Linked DNA regions of Homo sapiens. The protein of the gene in region 1 purifies or fractionates together with the protein of each later gene. This does not show direct contact. Each region holds a gene or a part of one and is shown in the gene's direction. Other genes may lie near its edges.

The links.
Region 2: the proteins of RALGAPB (region 1) and DHX15 purify together in Homo sapiens (tandem affinity purification; one study listed by IntAct). This does not show direct contact.

Annotation. Positions count from the first base shown.
Region 1 is NC_000020.11:38,545,843-38,549,342, forward strand, and holds part of RALGAPB (ral GTPase-activating protein subunit beta), read left to right. Parts: intron 1-400; coding exon 401-588; intron 589-2,846; coding exon 2,847-2,953; intron 2,954-3,500. UniProt on the Homo sapiens protein: Non-catalytic subunit of the heterodimeric RalGAP1 and RalGAP2 complexes which act as GTPase activators for the Ras-like small GTPases RALA and RALB.
Region 2 is NC_000004.12:24,578,055-24,581,554, reverse strand, and holds part of DHX15 (ATP-dependent RNA helicase DHX15), read left to right. Parts: intron 1-3,500.

The DNA of each region.
Region 1 (3,500 bases):
CGGTTGTCACAAAGCATATGGAATATGAGCTTGCTGTGTTCCATGCAAGATTCTAAGATATCAGATAGGTTGCTGGTAAGGGAGTAGGTCACTAAGATCAAATTATACCAGCCTAACTGCATTTTCTGTTCCGGATATTGACCAGACTGGAAAGGCAGATTAAATGTCTCTGAAATAAAGACATACAGGTATGCATCTGGGGTAATGGGCTTTTTAATCTTGGAGGGGAGAGTCTGGACAGCATGCCATGGCATTCACCACAAGGAGTAAATCTGACCTGTCAAGAAGCATGGCTGTGGTCAATTAAAATTCAGAAGAGTGGAAGGGGACACATTGATGCACAAGGTAAACTGAAGATTTTGCTTTGGGAATTAACTGTTATCTTTTCCATTCTCCATAGCATTATGCAGTTGCTCGGCGCATTTCCTTCACCTAGTGGTCCTGCCTCTCCTTGTAGTCTTGTGAATGAGACCACTTTGATTAAATACTCCAGGCTGCCAACCATAAACAAGCATAGTTTCCGGTACTTTGTCTTGGATAACAGTGTCATCCTGGCAATGCTGGAACAACCTCTTGGAAATGAGCAGAGTAAGTTTATAGTACTTTGAGCCTTCTCTACTGCTTAATCAGTGTTACCAGTACCATGAAGCTGTTTCCAGGATCAGGGAAGGACAGCCTACAGATTCTAAGTAGGTCAGAAAGATTTCTAGCTGTGGGACAATAGCACCTGAAAAATAGGGGGGCAAAAAAATAGAATATACATATTACATAGAGTCTTTTAAAGGCTCTTGATGTGCATCTGAACTAGCTCTGTAGTTTTATAAAAGGTGGTGTTTTAGTGGGTTCCATTGTGTTGTTTATCTTTGTCACTTTTTCTTCCCCCTTGAACTTCGGATCCTGCCCCTCTGCTCCCCTCCCTCTCACTCCTCATGTTCTGTATCAATTGTTGGTGCTACCTACACAGGCTAGAAACTTGAGGAGTTATCTTTACCTGCCCCTTCCTGTTACTCACTTATATAATTAGTTTCTAAGTTTCCATCTTCCCAGGGACCCTTGAATTTTTCCTTTCCTCTGTATTTTCCCAATACATCCAAGTGCAGGTCCTTATTATTTCTCACCTAGATTATTACAGCTGTTTCCTACCTACTCTGATTCCCTCAACCCCTAAACCCCTTGCCAGTTCTAACATGTGTTTTCCCTACTTTCATCCTACTTGCTGCCACCATAGTATTCATCTTCAACCACAAATGACCATGCCAGTGCCCTACTGAAAATCCTTCAGTGATTTTCCATTAACACAACATGCACTGTTTTCCTCCTTTCCCTCCCCCTCAGTTATAAGCCATCTCACAATATGTGATTATCACTGCGACCCAAACTATCCACAAGTACATTTTTTTTTTCTGATGGTAATTGGCATCAGCCAGTATGTAAAAGAAGCATGTTCTCAGACCCTTATTGCTGGGAAGGGGAAGGAAAGTGAAGGTTACAGAATCTGTGGGTATAAAGTGACCCATGGAGTCACCTGGTATACAATTCCCTTAGTTATGAGTGAAAAAACTCAGGCTCACAGAGGGTATATGACTTGCCCAGGGTTACTTGGGACTAGAGCCCAGATTTTCTAAACCCTGTATTGTCCCTTTCTATTATTATTGTCGCACAGTGATAGGATTTGCTCAGTGATTAAAGATTTGCCTTCTTGCCTTTGTAAAGGTGAAGAGTTCTGTGCCAGTTTTGTTGATTATATGAGTAAGAGCTCATAAATCCATGAAGTGAAAGTGAGACATTTCCCTGCAGTTTGAGATGAAAAGAATACCATCATAAACTTCTGTTGTGTTGTGGTGAGATGCGGTGACATTAATGTGAAATGGAATGGTGCCTTTTATTATTGTCTAACTTCAGAACTGCTACTCCCAAGTCTTTTCTACAGGCATCTCATCCTTCTCTACCCTAGACATGGAGCTTGCTTGGCTTTCTTTCCTAGCCTGTGCCTGTTCATGATTCCTCCAGCCTCCTACTCCAAGCCATCTGCTGAGGAGTCTGCAAAATCCCAGTGTCCCCTTCAGGCTTCCTGGCCTTTTTCCAGCTTTTTAAAGACTCTCCTACTTTCATTCCAAATAATTTCATTGCATAGGAAGTGTACCAAAAATACAAGCAATTGGAATTGTATAGATTTACAAGGACATTTTAATAGTTTATTGTAATAATAAGAAATTATAGAGAAGTTTGAAGGCGTTTGACTCCCATATCTGAGACGGAAGAATAAAAAAAAGGATCTGGGTCACTCGGGAAGTCCATCCTGAGTGTTTTTTTTAACACCCCCATCATGTCCCTGAACTTCTGCTGAGATGGAACAGTGCCTGCCTGTGGTGGGCAGTGGTACACAAAGGCATGGGCAGATATAACACTAACACTGCAAACACCCAGTCTGTCTTTCTACACTTAAGTTGTTCCCAACATTGGGAGGTTAAGAGTATTTACTAGGACAGTGTTTCCCACAAATGTGTACATGTACCATTGGAGGTATGTGAGATGATCTTAGTTGATACATTAGTGAACATTATTTTATGTATTTTTAAGCATGTGCTTTAAAATTATATAATTAGTACATGCCAAAATTCATGATTTTCCATTTAGAGATGCACAAGAGTGGTTGATACAAAGTAATAGTACTTACAGTACACGGGTATGGGTACGGCAGAAACCACAGAAGTGGTACACAAAAGATCAAAGCTTAGGAAACACTGTTGGGCCTTTGATTATGAGAAGCTCTGCAGTTGATAACAAGTTTATTTTAAATGGTTGTTGTCTGAAATTAAAACTTTTATATACATATTTTATTCTAGATGATTTTTTCCCCTCTGTCACTGTGCTGGTCCGGGGAATGTCTGGAAGACTTGCTTGGGCACAACAGCTTTGTCTTTTACCCAGAGGAGCAAAAGCAAATCAGAAGGTATTCATCAGAAGTTACAGGGAAGTGTGTGTGTGTTTTGTAATTTAAAGGTTAGGTAACATTCCAACAGAAGACACAGATCAAATAAATATTTTTGATCCCTAGCCAGATTCTCAGTCAGTGGGTTCATATCAGAATCATCTAGGAACCTAGAATTCCAGATGTACTCAATTACTCTTTAAAGACATGTTCAAGGCAGGTGTCTTTTCAAAAAGCTTTCCAGGTGATTCTGACATCTACTTAGGAGTAATTGCTGTTGTGGACAATGGCCCCAGTTTTTTCCATGTAATTTTACAAATGTAATAAAAGTCAGATATATACCATACGTGAAAAAAATTTGGTGGGACTTTTGATTTGTCCGCAACAGGACTTAGTTTGAAATTGTTTTATATGATTTGTTCTTATATAATAATTGGTAATATATTGTATAAATTTTATTTTTTTTATAAAGAGTCAGGGTCTTGTTCTGTTGCCCAGACTGGAGTGCAGTGGTGTAATCATAGCTCACTGCAGCCTCAAGCTCCTGGGCTCCAGTGATCCTCTTGCC
Region 2 (3,500 bases), on another chromosome or scaffold:
TACTCAAAGGTTTAAAGAAGGCATTCCCTAAAATCTTCATCTCCATCTTTGGATAACAGTTTTTGGTGAACATTTTCTAAGATCTCTGCATATTGACTCAAAAATATGAACTATAAAATTTAATATCAGTGGGATCAACGCGTGTTATTTTGTACTTTGATTTTTTTTTCCACTCAGAAATGTCATTAACTGTAGGTACACATTACGCTTTTAAATTGGCTGCCATAGGCCGGGCGCAATGGCTCACGCCTGTAATCCCAGCACTTTGGGAGGCCGAGGCGGGTGGATCACGAGGTCAGGAGATCAAGACCATCCTGGCTAACACGGTGAAACCCTGTCTCTACTAAAAATACAAAAAATTAGCCGGGTGTGGTGGCGGGCACCTGTAGTCCCAGCTACTCTGGGAGGCTGAGGAAGAATGGTATGAACCCGGGAGGCGGAGCTTGCAGTGAGCCGAGATTGTGCCACTGCACTCCAGCCTGGGCAACAGAGCGAGCCTCCATCTCAAAAAAAAAAAAATAATAAAAAATAAATAGATTGACTGCCATAGTACTCCAGTTGTAAAGGTATGACATCACTTATTTAACCAATATCCTGTTCATTGATATTTAGGTAGTTTTCCACTTGTTGCTATTTTATAAATGAGAAGTTTGATGAACATCCTTATACATACGTATTTGCACACATCCTTGAGAGGTTCCTGGAAATAAGATTGACGGATAAAAAGCAGTGCTTATTGCCGGGTGTGATGGCTCACACCTGTAATCACAGCACTTTGGGAGGCCTAGGCGAATGGATCACCTGAGGTCAGGAGTTCAAGACCAGCCTGGCCAAGGTAATAAAACCTATTTTTGTCTCTGTTAAAAATACAAAAATACACTGGGCATGGTGGCGCACTGCTGTAATCCCAGCTACTTACTCCGGAGGCTGAGGCAGGAGAATTGCTTGAACCTGGGAGGCAGAGGTTGCAGTGAGTCGAGATTGCACCACTACACTCCAGCCTGGGTAACAGAGGTAGACTGTCTTTAAAAAAAAAAAAAAAAAGCAATGCTTATTTAAAATATCATGATTTTGATGACCAGTTAATGTCTTCCTTAGCAGTACTTCAGTGCCTGTTATTATTCCATGTAGAATTTTTTTATTTTTTAGAGACAGGGTCTTCCTCTGTTTCCCAGGCTGGAGTGCACTGGTGTGATCATGGCTCACTGCAGTCTCAAATTCCAGGGCTCAAGTGATCTTCCCGTCTCAGCCTCCCAGGTAGCTGGGACTACAGGCGTGCCACCCCACCTAGCTAAGTTTAAAATTTTTTTGTAGAGATGGGGTCTCACTGTATTGCTCAGGCTGGTCTCAAACTTTTGGCCTCTGGTGATCCTCCCACTTGGGCCTCCCAAAGCACTGGGATTACATGCGTGAGTCACTAGGTCTTGCCCTCCATGTAGAATTTTAACATGGTATTAGAACTTAAAAAGATCTTTAATAATAACCAATATTGGTGGGGCGCGGTGGCTCATGCCAGTAATCCCAGCACTTTGGGAGGCCGAGGCAGTCAGATCATGAGGTCAAGAGATTGAAACCATCCTGGCCAACATGGTGAAACCTCGTCTCTACTAAAAATACAAAAATTAACTGGGTGTGGCAGCATGTGCCTGTAGTCCCAGCTACTCTGGAGGCTGAGGCAGGAGAATCGCTTGAAACAGGGAGGCAGAGGTTGCAGTGAGCTGAGATTGCACCACTGCACTCCAGCCTGGTGACAGAGCAAGACTCCGTCTCAAAATAATAGTAATAATAACAACAACAACCGATATTGGGCATTTGCAATGTGCCAGACAACACTTAAAGCACATCACATATATTAACTCATTTAATCCTATCTATACTCTACAAAACATATTGATAGCCACATCTTATAGGTGAGGGAAGAAATAACTGTGATCCTATAGTTGGCTTAAGTCTTGAGCCAAGATTGAACTGAGACACAGTACAGAGCAGTATGTTCAACAACTGTGTCATGTCATACCTCCCTCCCTGCTCGTGGTGTGGCTGTGTCTGAAGCACTGACTTGATACCAGTTTTTAAAAACCCTTATACTTCAACTAGTAAACTTTTAAGAACAAAACTCCTTTATAATAAAAAGTATCTTTTAAAAAAGAAAACACGCATGTGCACAATAGTTGACAAATATTTATGAAGTGGAGGGTTTGATTTTCCCCTTTTACTCACCTTTCATTTGTACTCCCTCTCTCATCGAAGGAAGGTAGTTTGAGCCATAAGCAACATTTCCAGGTGTCTGAATTTGCCTCCTGCATCCTCCCTGTTTTCTTACTTTAATCTGAGACTAAAAGTATCTGAAAATGCTCTTCATTTTGCAGATCAGTAAATTGAGGCAGTGTCTTGCAATGGTGATTCCAGCATTCCTTTTATCTTAATACCACAGCTGTCGCCATTGCTTGATCAGCAGCTAACCTTTTATCTTTAGAATGTATTTTATACATCCTTTGTTTGGTTTGGTAATGAAGCATCTGATGAAGTGGGCCCCTGAAAAAATCTTTGTTAGTATAGGTATTACTTTAACAAACTAAGGCAATATATAATACATGATTTACTTTGTCACCTCTCTTCCCCCAAATTTTGTAACTCTTGACCATGTCTTAATTGCCTGGTACTATGCTAGAAGTATAGAAATCATTAAACTAGGCTGGGCATGGTAGCTCATCGGTAATCCCAGCACGTTGGGAGGCTGAAGCAAGAGATTGCTTGATCCCAGGAGTTGAAAACCATCCTGGGCAACATGGTGAGACCCTTATCTCTACAAAAATAAGAAATTAGCGAGGCGTGGTGGTGCATGCCTGTAGTCCCAGTTACTCGGGAGGCTGAGGTGAGAGGACCACTTGAACCCAGAAGTTTGATATTGCAGTGAGCCATGATCCAGTGAGCCACTGCACTCCAACCCGGGTAATGGAGCAAGATCCTATCTCAAAAAAAAGGAAGTTGTTTCAATTATATTTTTTGTCATCTCCTCCTTCCCCCATGGTTGAGTGAATACTAGAAACATGAATCCTTTTTGTTCAGACCAGATGTTCTTTAAGAGTTCTTTTCTAGCTGTATGATCCATGATCTTTAAGGTGTCAAGTATTTGAACCATTTGTGAGTACAGTGCTTCTTACTTTGCTGGGCACATTTCTGTGTACTCTTATTATAAACTACACCTCGTTGGCATTTTGGAGCAATGTAAACACTTAATTAACAGTCACCTTAGGCCAGAAGCAGGAGAAGCAAAGATAGTTGATGGCATATTTCAGAAGATAGGTCCAGACTCTCAAGTATTGAATTGTGAGACTTCATTTTATGTTTATTAAGTTATCCTTTGACTTTTCTTTCCCATTGATTTTCTTTCTGTTTATGCCAGGTGAAATGAGAGGCTTCATACAGTTCTGGCTTGTATGCTCTGTGATTTTTGTAGAAGGTGAACATTGGGATGGAAGAGGGGAAAATCACTTTTC